Regions from separate parts of the Homo sapiens genome. Here region 2 is linked to region 1. The links come from fine-mapping of genetic effects on gene expression. Tissue or cell type: whole blood. Region 1 holds a variant in brackets; the other region holds the start of a gene. All regions are shown on one strand. Distances are from middle to middle.

What was found. PIP is the estimated chance that this variant, and not a neighbour inherited with it, causes the effect.
Region 2: it holds the start of MICU3, and the variant in region 1 is fine-mapped to the expression of MICU3 in whole blood (INTERVAL, PIP above 0.99).

Annotation. Positions count from the first base shown.
Region 1 is chr8:17,068,993-17,076,992 of GRCh38, reverse strand. MICU3 (mitochondrial calcium uptake family member 3) reads right to left here. Exons shown (of 15, transcript NM_181723.3): 3 at 7,274-7,305. Among named protein-coding and RNA genes, the nearest start is that of MICU3, 46 kb to the right of the region's middle. The variant A/G (reference allele first, on the strand shown) is at 4,817.
Region 2 is chr8:17,022,908-17,031,086 of GRCh38, reverse strand. MICU3 (mitochondrial calcium uptake family member 3) reads right to left here and starts at 3,849. Exons shown (of 15, transcript NM_181723.3): 1 at 3,427-3,849. The coding sequence starts at 3,807. RefSeq lists an enhancer at 3,222-3,311 and a silencer at 3,462-3,871.

The sequences.
Region 1 (8,000 bases):
TAATTGTGAAGAAAAATGATTAAAAGACGGTGAGATAACTTGAAATAATTTGAAACAACAAAGTTAGTCTGCTTAGAAACACATTAGACAAACACAGAACCCACTTCTATTTTCAGATCTGACACCCACTCCTCAGAGCATGTGGCTCCCCAATAGTTTAAGCATCACCTGAGAGCTTGTGCGAAATGCAGAATCTCAGTGCCCATCCCAGACCTACTGAACCACAACCTGCATTTTTAACAACATCTTCTAATTTTTACACACATTGAAGTTTGGAAGGCATTTCAGACAAACCATTTCTGACGCAGCTGTACCTAAAAATGCTTTCTGACATTTATAAATCATTTTTGTTTAACTGCAAAGCTGAGCTAGCAGGAAGAAAAATTCTTGGTATGTCAAAGGCAGGAACAGCATTTTTAGGGGATTTATGGACACCTTGAAGCCCATATGTGGATTCTTGTGTTTGTGTTTTTCATGTTTCTGTATCTGCACTGCAGGTAAAAGATGCCAGCAGATAATCAGTGCATCTGATTATAGAATAGGAATGGCACAGAATAATTCAGGTCCGAATTGTAATGAGAAACTGGGATGTTTATTGTTTAGACAACAGTAAACTCAAATATTTTTGTTAGATTGAGAGATTAAATAAAACATTCTGGGTGGGACTCAGTGGCTCAGGCCTATAATCTCAGCACTTTGGGAGGCTGAGGTGGGTAGATCCCTTGAATCCAAGAGTTTTAGACCAGCCTGGGCAACATGGCAAAACCCCATTTCACAAACAAACAAACAGACAAACAATTAGCTGGGCATGGTGGCGTTCATCTATAGTCCCAGCTTACTCAGGAGGCTGAGGTGGAAAAATCACTTGAGCCCAGGAAGTCGAGGCTATAGTGAGCCATGATCACACCACTGCACTCCAGCCTAGGCAAACAGAGTGAGACCTGTCTCAAAAAAATATAAAAAAACTTAAAAAACAACATTCTGAATAAATTTTACATAGCTTAATTTATACCATCTCTATTGTAACTGTATAAATATTAACTAATCTTTCTCCATTTTAACTGTTTCCATGTCTTCCAACCTCATCTGTTCTAACTTAAACTCAGCTACAGTGTAAGACTGAAAAATCAAAGCTAGCTTTTATTGGGTGCCCTCTATGGGTTTGACAATAGGCTCATATAATAACTTCATTCTAAAAACAATCCTCATTATGCATATTTTACTGAGACTTAAAGTGGATAAGTAACACCCAAGGTCACAGAACTAATAAATGACAGAGCCCAGATCCTTACTGACACCAAGTAGCTTATTTTAGTAATAATCTAGTTTCTCCCGGTCTAAATCATCCAATCAACACATTCATCTTGACTTCTCTGTTAACTTTAAGGACCTCTAAAATTTATTAAATTTTTTATATTTCCACCCATGTCAGGAATCTCTCTCCCTCCTCCAAACTCCTAGCTTGGTTTCGTATGTAGCAGTGCCATATTATAAAGAATTTGGCCTTTGTCCCTGGGTCCTAGGAAGCAGACTCTAAATCCTTGGTTCATACCCGAGTTTATGCTAAGGAGATGACTCAGGAGGGGAACTGCTTACCAGAAAGAATAACTGTGATTACAGAGTTGGGGCTTTAGTGAGCTTGACCTCTGGGGAGAAGAGAGAGGCTACAGATTAAGTTCAATCACACAGCCAATAATTCAATCATGCCTATGTAATGAAACCCTAATAAAAATTCTAAGCACTAAGCTCAGAGGAGCTTTCTGGTTGTTGAACACGCTGCTGTGCTAGGACGGTGACACACCCCAACTCCATGTTCTCAAAGAAGGCATAGAAGCTCTGTGTTCAGGACCTTCCCAGACCTTGCCCTCTCTCTTCATCTGGCTGGTCTTACTCTGTATTCTATCTAATAAAACCATAACCATAGGTACTGCATTTTCTGAGTTCTATGATTCATTATAGCAAATCATTAAACCTGAGGGGAGCTGTGGCAACCTCCTAGACTTGTAGACAGTAAGGTCAGAGTGTGGGTGGCCTGGAGCCCCGAAACTTGCAACAAGCATCTGAAATGAGGGCAGTCTTGTTAGGCACCATGCTTAAACTCGGAGTGGTTAGCGTCAGAATTAAATTGTAGGTAGAAAATAAATATTTGCTGAATTAAAGTCAGTCTCCTAGAATTATAGTTGCCTTTTAAAAGAGTTACGTAATTTTCTTAAATAAGTACTATTAAAAAAATTATAGTTAATAGATATATATTATAGAAAAATTAGTAAGTACAGAAAATAAAAACTAATTGTAATCCAGGGATGACAAACTTAAGTTTTAGACTAAAGTTAATTGTCTCTAGGGGTGGCAAGTTAAACACACACACACACACACACACACACACACACACACACACACACGTTTTAACATCATTTTAGTCTGATTCTCCAGCTAGGCATATTTCTATAGTATTTTTGTTGTTGCTGCAAATATTAAATCATTCTCTACATACTGTTTTATAATTTACCCTTTACATTTAATATATTATAGTGAGCATATTTTCCTGTCAAATATTCTTCATTTTTATTTTAATGGCTACACAGCAGTTGTCTATAGTAGCAGTTCTGAAAGGAAACTCTTCACATTCTTAAAAATATTATGGACCCAAAAGAGATATTGTCTATATGGGTTATATCTATCAATATTTAATTTATTTGAAAATAAAAACAAATTTTTAAAACACAATAAAACACAAACACACATTCCATTAGTTGGTAGAGCAATGGCATCATTACCAAACAGCCTCTAGAAAATTCCACTATACAGGCTGGGCACGGCAGCTCACACCTGTAATCCCAGCACTTTGGGAGGCCGAGGCGGGCGGATCACGAGGTCAGGAGATGGAGACCACGGTGAAACCCCCTCTCTACTAAAAATAAAAAATAAAAAAAAAAACCAAAAAGAAAAAGAAAACTCCACCATACACTCATGAGAGAATGACAGTGAATAAAACAAGTATCTTCTCAATATTATGATGAAAATAGTTTTGACTTCATGGACCTTTGAAAAGGTATTTGCACTTTAAATGACTGTCAGTTAATATTATTTTGCAACTTGCCCTTTTACTCAACCTTGTTTTCTAGTTCTACTCATGTTAATACACATAGCTATAATGTATTTATTCATTTTCACTCTGTAATTCTACATTTATCCTGGGTTTCTCTATTTCACAAATTTTTCATTCACCTGCCTGATGATTGACATATTGTTCCCAAATTTTTGCTATTACAATTGATGTTCAGGAAACACATATAGCAGCAGTCCCCAACCTTTTTGGCACCAGGGACTGGTTTCTTGGAAGACAATTTTTCCACAGACCAGGAGGGAGGAAGAGGAAATGTTCTGGGGATGATTCAAGTGCATTACATTTATTGTGCACTCTATTTCTATTATTATTACAATGTAACATATAATGAAATAATTATACATCTCATCATAATGTACAATCAGTGGGAGTCCTGAGCTTGTTTTCTTGCAACTAGATGGTCCTATCTGGGGGTGATGGGAGACAGTGACATATCATCAGGCATTAGATTCTCATAAGAAGCACACAACTTAGATCCCTCACATGCCAGTTCACAATAGGGTTTGGGCTCCTATGAGAATCTAATGCTGCCACTGATCTAACAGGAGGCAGAGCTCAGGCAGTAATGTGAGCAATGAGTGATGGAGAGTGGCTGTAAATACAGACGAAGCTTCACGGGAAGGGGGCGATCTGATATATAGGATTTCTGTGGCAAATCTGAAAACATTTCTCTAGTATGCATTTCTACAAGAGGGATTTCTCATATGCATTTTCAACATTATTAGGTATTGCCAAATTTCACTCAAAAGTAAATATACCCCAGCCTGGGTGACAGAGCAAAACCCTGTCTCTACTAAAAATGCAAAAATTAGCTGGGCATGGTGGTGTGTGCCTGTGGTCCCAGCTACTCAGGAGGCTGAGGTAGGGGGATCACTTGAGCCCAGGAGGCAGAAGATGGAGTGAGCCAAGATCGTGCCACTCACTGCACTCCAGCCTGGGTGACAGGGAGAGACTCTATCTCAAAAAAAATTAAAAAGTAAATACACCAGTTTATATTCTGACCTGGTTCCTTCTTGTTCTCCTTGCTAATTATGGGTATTGTCAGATTTCTGGAAGCTCACCATCTGGCGGGTGTCAAATAGTATCGTATCATTGGTTTAATTTGCACACCCTAAGTTACTAGTAAGGTTCACCTCCTTTACATATATTCAGTGGCCATTGTAGGCATATTTGTCTATTTTTTTCTTATTAAGCCATAATCTTTTTTACAAAGATAAAAAAAGGGGTTCTACGTGACTGCAAGACACTTACCCTCTTCTGTTGATATGTTGCATGCATATCCTCCCATCCATCATACATCTTTTAACATTGTTTACACTGTGTTTTGATGCTAAGCTTTCAAATATTTAGTTTAGTAAACATTGCCAATAATTTTGAGTTTTGCTTTGTGTCTTATCTAAAAAAAAAAAAACCTCTCATGCCTCTCATTTTTGCTTTTAATCTTAGAGAATTTTTGTCACAAATAAGAACTTAATCCATCTGAAATTAGTTTTTGTATATGGTAGTAAATCTGAGGCCTAATTTGCCCCCTCCATGGAAAAGTTATTATTCAAACATCTATGATTGAGAGGTCAATCTTTCTGCCACTGATTTACAGATCTACCTATATATACCTGGATCTGTTTCTGGATTCTATATTCTATTACCTTGATCTAGTTTTTAAAAATATCCTTGCAATGATGTAATACT[A/G]CTTTATTTATTATAGCTCTATTTCTAATCTTGATATGTGATCAACCCCATTATTCTCATCTCAATGGTTTTTTTTCCCTCTTTCCTTTTCAGAATTGTTCTAAATATTTTGGGGCCCTTACTCATCCAGATTAATTTTAAAAGTTAATTTCGGATCAATTTGGTTGGGATTTTAATTGGAGTTACATTGAATTTATAGATAGATTTGGAGGATCATTATCATAAGGAAATGGCTTATTACCAGTATGAACATGATACAGTTCTCCATTTACTTGTATTTTTAAAAACATAATTTAATAATGTTTTGTACATCTTCTGTTAGGCATTGCTTTTAAGTACCTAATAGTTCTTGTTTCTATTATGAAATGCATTTTATTCAATACTAGTTTCTAATTGCTCTCGCTGGTGTGGAGCATCTTCTTAACTTTGGTTTATTGCTGTTATATCCAGTAGCAATCTTGCTAAACTTTTATTAAATTTAAACAAATCTAAAATTTATGTATTTTTACATTTTTCTTCCAATCACATTCTATTCTGTGCCTCTATTCTAATCCTTAGAGCCTCTTCTTTTTTTCATACTACATATTATGGTCTCAATTGTGCCCCTCTCCCCGATTCATATGTTGAAGTCCTAAGCCCCAGTACCTCAGAATCTGACTGTTTTGCAGAGAGGACCTTTCTTTAAAGAGGTAATTAGGTTATTATATAAGGTCATCAGGATGAGCCCTAATCCAATATGACTGACGTCCTTATAAGAAGAGATTAGGACACAGACATGCCCAGAGGAAAGACCATGTGAAGACAGAGGAAGAAGATTGCTACCTAAAAGCTAAGGGGAGAGGCCTCAGAAGAAACTAACCTGCTGACACCTGGATCTCAGACTTCAAGCCCCCAGAACCGTGAGAAAATAAATGTCTGGTGTTAAACCCACTCAATCTGTGATATTTTGTCATAGCAGCCCTAGTATACTATACTAGCCCAGACTTCCAGTAAAATGCTATGGAACAGTTGTGACAGCAGGCATATTTGCACTGTACAGTAGTTCCCCCTTATTTGAGGCTTAGCTTTCTACAGTTTCTGTGACCCTCAGTCAACTGCAGTCCAAAAACATTAAATAGAAAGTTCCAAAAATAAACAATTCCTAAGTTTTAAGTTGCGCACTGTTCTGTGTAGCATGATGAAATCTCACACTGTCCAACTCTGTCCTATCCAGGATGTGAATCATCCCTTTACCCAGTATATCCACGCTGTATATGCTACCCACCTGTTAGGCACTTAGTAGTTCTCTCGTCTACCAAACTGAAAAAACATAGTACATATAGGGTTCAGTACTTTCCAAATTTTCAGCATTCATTACCAGGGGTCTTAGAGCATATTACCCACTGATAAACGGGGACTAATATACCTAACTTTAAAGACAATGTCTCTCAAGTTTCACAAATGACCATGACATTTGCTGTAGGCTTTTGGAGGATTCCCTTTAACTAGTTAAGGACGTTCCCTAGATTTCTAATATTCTTTTTTTTAAAAAAAAAAAACATATCTATAAAAATATAAAAGGAATATATATGCAATTTAAAGTTAAGAAATAGTTAACTTAAAAAATAGAAAATTAGCAGTACTTTAAAGCCTCTTTGAGCCCATCACTGATGATATTCCCTGCTATCATCCTGAAGATGAATACTTTCTTGAATTTAATGTTAATTATTCCTTTGTTTTCCCACGTATGAATGTATCCTAAATAATATGATTTCACTTTCTCAGTTTTGGACTTTATACAAATAGAATTATACTTTGTATTTTTGAACTGCTTATTTTCTTTACCATCATGTTTCTGAGACTTATTTAGTTAAAGCACTGTTAAAATTCATTTGTTTTCACTATTGTGTAGTATACTATATGAATATATCAACATTTATTTATGGTATAGTATTGATATATTAAAGTTTTGGGGCCATCATATATAATCTATAAACATTCTTGTGAACCTCTCCTGCATATAAGCAAGAATTTCCCTAGGTATATACACTGGTATATGCTAGATACCAGTGTATTTAGTAGAAATTACTAGATCACAGAGTCTATTCAAGTTCAACTTTACAAGGTACATGCGCATGCACTACTGCAGAATTTAAATGCAGGCATGTATTTACTAGGTATAGGGTAGGCATATCGCCAATTTTAGTAGATAATGCCAAATTGTTTTCCAAAGTGAGTATACCAACACATGAGATTTACCAGTAATCTACATTTTCACCAGCCCTTAGAAACGTCCACCTTTTTATTTTCTGACAATCTGGAGGATAAAAAAAGGAACTCTGATGTGATTTGATTTGCCAAAAAATCATAAAATATATAAAAATACATAATATATTTTATGAAATATATTTTAATTATATATGTATATATGCATGCACATATAAAATTTGTGTATATCTACCAAGAGCTTTAACTCACCTGTTTGGAAAGTGACTTCCAAGTTTTGGCAACTAAAATAAACAAATGTAAGATAATTAGATAATAAATACTTCATGGAATATATATCCATATTTGCTAACCATCTACAACCATAACTCATAACCAAACTTTTATGTCCAAAAGGCAAAGTTTTCTTTTAACCTCAAAATTTGGATCTGTGATATGATCTTATATATGTTATCTATTTGCTTCATATATACTATGCACTGTTCATAGTAAGTATCAGTGATACAGGAAACATTTCTCCACAGCCGTATCATCTTAATTTGGGCTTTCTGGACTAATAAAGTAAGCTAACTTTCTCCATGTTAAACATCTTGTGGGCTTAAAAGCACAAATAATGATACTTATAAAATATTCAAACTAGAATATAAAATAACATTAACATAGATAAACTATAATTTTAAGGTATTACTTGTGATCTTTGCTATACTAGTGTTCCATGACGTAATTCACAGGTCAGGTCTCTCTAGGATGAAGAAGGATTGGGGAAAGAAAAAAAGAAAGGAAAGGGAGGCTAGGCAAAGTGATGGGGAAACTTGTCCTGTTTCATTACTCTTCCCTACAACTATTCAAGAAGCATCACTGGAGTAAGAGTGTTACAGCTGAATAAAATGTCAGGGATCACTTTCTTTTTGTGATTCCTCCTCACACCCCCAAAGATCTCAAACACTGTAAAACTTAAAATGTTGGGACAAATGTATAG
Region 2 (8,179 bases), 46 kb after region 1:
GCCACTAAAATAGTATTTCTGAAAAATGGCAGATTGACTCCATGATTCTATTTCAACATCTTCTTCCCCTAACCACATTAAATTCACAGTAAAGGAGTATAAAAAGGTAAAAATACAAAAGAGCTAAGATAGAGAAAAGAATGGGAAACTAAAACATTCAAGAGAATTTATAAAATTTTTATAAAATTGAAGAGATGGAGGAGTGATAATTGACTTAAGAGAACAGAGGCACTACCTGAGTTCTGCAGAGACCAAATAGAAGTAAGGTATTAATATTTGCTATACAGAATCCCAAAACGGACAAGGCCTTGGGAACTATGGAGCTATGGAATCAGAGTAAGTAGTTGGGCTAAAAGCAGAGGATTAGATAACAATACCTAAGTATATCATTAGATACTCACCAACATAAGTGCTGTTACATATATGTGCACCTGTGCCTGCTTCCAGAAGACTACTACACCTCCCATCTCTATTTTTTGTAGACGCTCAACAGCATCAGAGAAAAAGAGGTATAAAATACTGACATTTGGATGTTACACTAATAAGAAGCCCATAATACTCACCAACATAAGTGGTGTTACATATATGTGCACATGTGCCTGCTGCCAGAAGACTACTGCACCTCTCATCTCTCCTATTTTTTGTAGACGCTCAACAGCATCAGAGAAAAAGAGCTGTAAAATACTGACATTTGGATGTTACACTAATAAGAAGCCCTTTCGTGCAGATGAAAGGACATGTTATGCACAGACACCCTCTGAGAGGTTCTCAAGTAAGAGACAGGTAACAACCACAGATATGTGAGGAAAACCTCCAAAATGAAAGCAAGAGCTTATAAAATCAAACAGAAATAAAAAAGAACCTGGAAGAAACAAAGCAATGCACAGAGAAGGCCAAAGTTATAATTTATATCCTTAGAAGGCAAAACAAAGTTATAATTTATATCCTTACAGCAAAAAGAGAAAATATAGCAGCCATATAGAAAGCAAAATAGAATGCTATAACTCATCAACAACAGAGAACACAAAGTCGCTCTTTGAATTAAAAAAGTAGAATAGCAGAAATAAAAAAATTCAGTAGGAAGGTTGGAAGATAAAGCCCAGGATATCTGCTATAAAAACAAATAAACAGATGAAAATATTTTTTAAAACCGAAATATAAGAATGATTAGAATTAGATTAGGATCTGTCAGGAAATTTAACTTCAAAGAAACAGCATTTCCAGAAAAAGAGAATAGAAAGAGGGAGAAGAGAAAAATCATCAAAGAAACAATAGAAGAAAATTACACAGAATTTTTTAGACACGGATTTCCATATTGAAAGGCCTCTTAAGAACCTAGCACAATCAGTGAAAAAATACACATCCCGAAGCTCATTACTGTGAAAATTTCAAGCACCAGGGATAAACAGATCATAAAAGTTTTCAGAGAGGGAAATACAAAAGGCATGACAATCAGAAAGTAGGACTAGAGGCTAGGGAAGCATAAGACACAGGACTTTAACATTATTTGACTTCTAAAACAATGAACAGAAATTTTTATAAACACTAAGCAATAATAACTGCACAAAAGTACAAAATAAATAAACGAATAAAAAATAATTTTTTTTTTTGAGATGGAGTTTCGCTCTTGTCACCCAGGCTGGGGTGCAGAGGTGTGATTTCGGCTCACTGCAACCTCTGTCTCCCAGGTTCAAGTGATTCTCCTACCTCAGCCTTGCCAGTAGCTGGGATTACAAGCGCCCAACACCACACCCGGCTGATTTTTGTATTTTTAGTAGAGACGAGGTTTCGCCATGTTGGCCAGGCTTGTCTCGAACTCCTGACCTCAGGTGATCTGCTTGCCTCGACCTCCCAAAGTGCTGGGATTACAGGCGTGAGCCACCACGCTCAGCCAAAAAATAAATTTATTTAATGTTCTTTAGTAGTACCATTGTTTTAAATATACTGTGTTAACTCATTTAACTCTCATAACACCCCAGGAGACTATTAGCCTCATTTCACAGGTGAGGAAACAGGCATTGACAGGTCAAGTAATTTCTCCATAATGACACAAGTAGCAAGTCGTGGAGCCAAAGTTCTAGCTTTCTGAACGTGGTCTTTTTAAAAACTGCAAGATAACATCTCTCAACTGTAAAAGTAAAATTAATTTTAAGAAAGAAAAGAAAATACTACTTGAATTCCCTACCTTGCTGATCTGTTCCTAGACCAACTATGGTTAATTAAAAGTTCTGCCATCATGAAAAACGCTATGCTCCTTGCCAAGCCACAAAAGTGGATGTGTATTTGTGAAGGGGGAGGGGGTGGAGATTTGAGGGTATTTCCTAGTATTTTGAATATTCATGTGTAAAAGGACTTTATGTTATGTGCTTGTGATCTGCTGCTAGATAGTCCATAAAGCAGATTCCGTAACCTAATTGCATTGACAACCTCCACCAAAGGAAATGATGCACTTACATCAGATCACCACTGCGTATTAAGAACAAAGCCTATAAAAATTGCATTAGAAACAGCATAGCTCTCTGTTTTCTAAATTATTTTCATCTACGCCGTTCACATTCTTCGAGCCTTGCAAGGAAAATCTCCTTAATTTTCCTAGTCATTTACATGACTATTAAATATACTGATGCGACAAAAAAAATCACGCTCCTTTACTCACTGTTGCCTTTCACACATCTTTACCTTGTATTATTAACTACATAATGACAGTTGAACATTTTCACGTGACTTTCTTCTGTAGGAGTTTGTGTCATTCACAGCCTCCTACATTTGCTATCCTATCCATTTTGTGTTTTATCGTTACCTACTAACGGGATTCTGGCTTTAGTGGGGGAAGGAAAAAGAGAGAAATACTTATGTCTCTTTTTGAACAATTTTTTATTTCTTTTCAGACCTGGTAACATCAACATTCCCTGGGTATGATAAGGGCGTTAGCATGCAGGTTTAGCATTTCCTTTCTTGGGACTAATAAATTCTCATATGCTAAAGTAGTGGCTTTTGAGATCTCAGACCGCTGCTTCGAAACTCATTCTAATGCAACAGACCTCCTGGGTCATTAGCTGTCGCCCCGCGCAATCTAGGAGTTCCTTTTTCCCACACCTACAGCGGTCCACTTTCTGCCTGTCATGGCCTTCATTTCTGAATCTTTTTTTGTAAGAGGGGGAGGGGTGTTGGTTTTGGGTTTGGATTGATACTTGGTAGCTGCAGCCACCTTTAAGGTCCTGATGCATCAGGGACAGCATCACTGGTCTTCCCAATACGTGGGTGACCGGATCCTAGGCTGTCCGGCCTAGGTGTCAGCCTCGCTCACGGGAAGTTCCTCACCCGCGGCCACAGCGCTTGCACCGTCCCCACAGCCTCCAGGGTCCTGCGTACCCGGCACGAAGGTCACATCCCCCGCGCAGGTGTGACGCGCGCTCGCGCACTCACCGTCTCCTTGGCAGCCGCCACTGGGATGGGCAGCATCCCCCGGCCGCGGGGCGGGTCCTCGGGCTCCGTGGCCGCGCTCTTTGAGGGTCGCCCGGTCGCCGGCGAGCCGGCCCTGGGGTCCCCGTACAGCTGGTAGCATACCAGGCCGACCAGCCCCCCGCCGGCCGCCGCCGCCACGCTCAGCTCCCCCCAGCGCCGCCGCCGCCTCCATGCCGCCTCCGCCACAGCCCTCTCCTCATCCTCTCGGGAGGAGAAGGGCCGGCCAGGAAGGCCCAGGGTGGTCACCGCAGGCCGCCCCCACGGCCCAAGGAGGGGCTGGTGAGCGCAGAGTGGAGGAGACACCCGGGGTGGCGGCCACAAGAGCCTTCGCAGCGCAGCCATAGCGGAGGCCGCCCACACCAGAGCTGGGAGGGGGCAGAGAACGGAGGGGCGGGGGCGGGGGGGGGGGTCGCCGAAATCTCGCGAGAAGTCGGTGCCGCGAGCTTCGCGGCCGGCCGAGAGCGACCCCTACACTCGCGCGGCCCCGGGGACCCGCGACGCCACCTTCAGCGTAGCGGTCCCGTGGTTCGGCCCGGGAAGATCATGGAAGAGGCGGCGGATCCCGGCTGCTCCCCGGCCCCGAACCCCCAGCCCAACCACGCAGTCATAAATAACCGCGCCAGCCCGGCGACACCTGGCTACGCGACAGCGCGACACTGCGGGCACAGCCGAGTCAGCGTAACTGAGGCGCGGCCGAGTGCGGGGCTCTCTGGGGCCCGCGCCGCTGCTACGGGCGGGGTGGGTCTCCGAGCTGGGCTCAGCGCCCGTCTGGGACACTCACATTCCCTAACGGTCTCCTGACCTCAGGAAACTCAAGGTCTTGACTCAAGGTCGTGAACGATTTGCAATTGTATCTTCACATATACGACACAAATGAGGTATAAGCATTTGGCTCAAGTCATAACGATTGCAAATTAAGGCAAACACTTTGACGACTGAAGGGCAGCTTCCGGACTTTTGATGGGAGAAGGCTAATGCTGTTTTTTAGAAGCATTAGCACACCCGCGGTCACTTAATTCAACAAATCAGAACTGTCTTGTGCATATAAAAGTTAAAAATTTTAAAACTTCTGTGAATAAAGATAAAATCTTGAACGATACCCTGATTTTTCAGGGAAGCGCTGTTTGTATAAATATAAAATAAATGAGAAGCGTATTGTGTCATCTTTTTGTTTTTACTGTACTTTTTGTTTGCTATGTTATCAGTATCAGTTTTTATGAGAAAGTGTAGATGAAGTTCCTATCAGTTTCTCTCCCCAGACCCCAGTTTTGGTAACTTGAATTATGTTAGCTTTTTCTTCCTACTATGGAATGGTGCCAGGAGTCCCTAAAATATTGTGGATCTAAGGGGACAGACAACTAAATACAGTGGTCTCAATTGGGCTGCAGTGACAAGAGAATACACCATCAGTTGATTCTGGCAATTCTTGTAAAGACTAAAGGCTTTCAGAGACGACCAAATGAGTTTTTTCTGGCTCAGGTCCTACAATTTCTTCCCTTTTTTTTTTCTTTTTTTGAGACGGAGTCTTGCTCTGTTGCCCAGGCTAGAGTGCAGTGGCACATTCTCGGCTCACTGCAACGTCCGTCTCCCTGGTTCAAGCGATTCTCCTGCCTCAGCCTCCCGAGTAGCTGGGATTACAGGCACCCGCCACCGTGCCTGGCTAATTTTTGTGTTTTTAGTAGAGATGGGGGTCTCACCATCTTGGCCTGGCTGGCCTCGAACTCCTGGAGGTCCTGCAATTTCTATTCCTAACACCTTGCATGTAAATAGCACATCAGGTACACCCTGTTACCTCTTATTTTAATAGAGGTTAATGGCATTTTGCTTTCTTAAAGCTGCTAAAAGCGGTAAGAAGAAAAATCTTCTGTAGCAGATGAACAAATTTTGTGTATTTTAAAACCTGTCTCTGAGTTTTCTTCAGTTTCAGCCTGTGGGTTTTATGGAGTCAATGCCTAAGGAAGACTCTGATAGCGTCTTGCTTTATCACCAAATTTTCCTCAATTTATGCTTTCTCTATATTCTGTGAAATGGTAGTTTCCCCAAATAAATTATCTTCTGGGTAATAATTATATATATTATATATAATATAATAATCATATTGGCCGGGCGTGGTGGCTCACACTTGTAATCCCAGCACTTTGGGAGGCCGAGGCGGGTGGATCATGAGGTCAGGAGATAGAGCCCATCCTGGCTAACACGGTGAAACCCCATCTCTACTAAAAATACAAAAAACTTAAAAAAAAAAAAGCCAGGTGTGGTGGCATGCGCCTGTAGTCCCAACTACTCAGGAGCCTGGGACAGGAGAACTGTTTGAACCCGGGAGGTGGAGGTTTCAGTGAGCCGAGACTGTGCCGCTGCACTCCAGCGTGGGTGACAGAGCGAAACTCTGTCTCAAAAAAAAAAAATTATAATAATAGTTCTGACACTGTTTACTTTGAACTGAACATGATTTCCTGATTTTCTCATAAATTCTTATTATAGTCTAATGCCAGAATTCTTGGACAAACTGATCAATTTTTACTAGTTGCATGTTAAAAGCTAAGTAGTTCTAAAGAAGATTAGGGAGGTAATACAATAACATCACATTACAGATGAGGAAAATGACATCCTTCATCTAAGATGACAAATACAGACACATACGTATAGATTTCTATGTAGTTTCTCTATAGTTTTCTAAATTTGATAGAGCTCCTGCAAACAATTTATCTGGTTAGAAGCTAAGTACTGCTGTGAGAAGGGCTAAGTTTATGTTTGTAGATCAGTCAGAGAACTTTGGATAAAATACCTCTCACGTGCAAAAACAGCTTTACTAATAATTTTCAACAGTACTTTCCCTCTAAAGGTGAAATTTCCTTAAGAATAGTTACTGTTTTCTTCCCACGTTTGATGCTCTGTAACTATAGCTACACAAAAATAACCAAATTCCCTTGTTATGTGGATATTTTTCTGAGTTTAATTCCCAGAGGAAAAATTTTAAGAAAATATGATATTAGGAATTTGGAACCTTTTTTTTTTGAAATTTCAGGTAATATTGTTGGATCAATATAGAGTCAACCCAGTATCCCTTATCTTTTATGTCAATTCTACTGAGCATTAAGAATAACCCCCAAAATGCCCCTACTCCACAGTGAGAGCCCACACCTTGAAAGAAATATCCACTTATCGTTCACTATGGTCTAAATAAAAAGAAATGTTCTGAAACAATAAAAATGTTTCAAACAATGGGGATTAAGCCAAAAAGGGTTTTCCAGGAAAGCATATACCTCAGTGAATAAGTAATAAATTAGAAGTGAAGAAATCTGGACTCCAGTCTTGGATTTGCTGCATCTTAATTATAATGCTTTGGAAGCCACAGTCTCTAAAATAGTGGAGTTGAAATAGATGATCACCCCTGAACCCATCTTTCTAATGAACTAAAATGCTCCAAGTGTATCAGTAAACCATAGAAAGATACTTCATGGTATTTTTCATGTATCATTTCTCTTCTGAAAATCTACAATTGGCCTAAGATTGTTTTATTCTTTCAACTTAAAATTCCATCCCCGGACCACGCAGGCTAACGTCTGTAATCCCAGCACTTTGGGAGGCCAAGGTGAGTTGATCACTCAGGAGTTCGAGACCAACCTGGGCAATATGGCAAAACTTCGTCTCTACAAAAAATACAAAAATTAGCCAGGCATAGTGGTGCGTGCTTATGGTCCCAGCTACTCGGGAGGCTGAAATAGGAGGATGGCTTGAACCGGGGAAAAGGAGGTTGCAGTAAGCCATCACTGAGCCACTGCACTCTAGCCTGGGTGAGAGAGCAAGACTATGTTTAAAAAAAAAAAAATCCATTCCTTTATCTAATTATTTTAACCTTCTACTGCATTTAAAATTGCAAATACGTTAGTGATTTTGAAAAGTTTGAAAAAGTGGAATATAAGTGCAATAGGCAGGAATGTCTTGTTTAACAAAACTTCTATTAAAATATACTGCATTCCTTATTTTGGTCATTCTGAGCTCCAGATTCTTGACTAGTTAAAAGAGCAGCAGTTACATCTGAGATCTGTATCAGGGCACATGAACCACCCCATCCCCAGGTCCACTCAAGTCTACCAGCAGAGAGCAAGGTTGCAACCATCTTCTTCTCTCTTGGGAAAGTTGTCATCATTTTCTCAAATTGCCTTCCACCTTCCATGCTGTCTTCCTTAGGGCAAAACTGACATAGGAGACAGTGTTGGGGAAGGTATGTTCTTGCTCTGTTTTCTTCAAAGTGCTACCCACCAGCAATCTAGAACTCAATTCCTCAGCATCCAGGGCTATGGAAACCAAGTTACACAAGACACTGAGGGTCTGTTTTCTGTTTTGATGAGCTCTCATTCCCAAAGACTGTGATCTGTATCTCACCCTTTTTCCATTAGGCAAAGCCAAGCTGACTCTAAGCAACATGAGGCCAGGGTATGCATCTTCTAGCCCAGTTCCTGGCACACATTAGGACCTCAATTATATTTACTAAATGAAAAGCAATGTCTTGAAAAGGGGGGAAGGTGGAGGTCAACATAGGAAGGCAAGTTAGGTGACAAGGAAATACAATGGCCCATCAGACACTAAACAAGCTGACAAACCAAGCAGCACATCAATGAGGAAATGCAATCAACACAGATGGGAGGCCAAAGGGAAAAAGCAAGGGACTGGCAAAGAAGGATCACAGATAGAGTGTGGGCTAGGTGAAGTG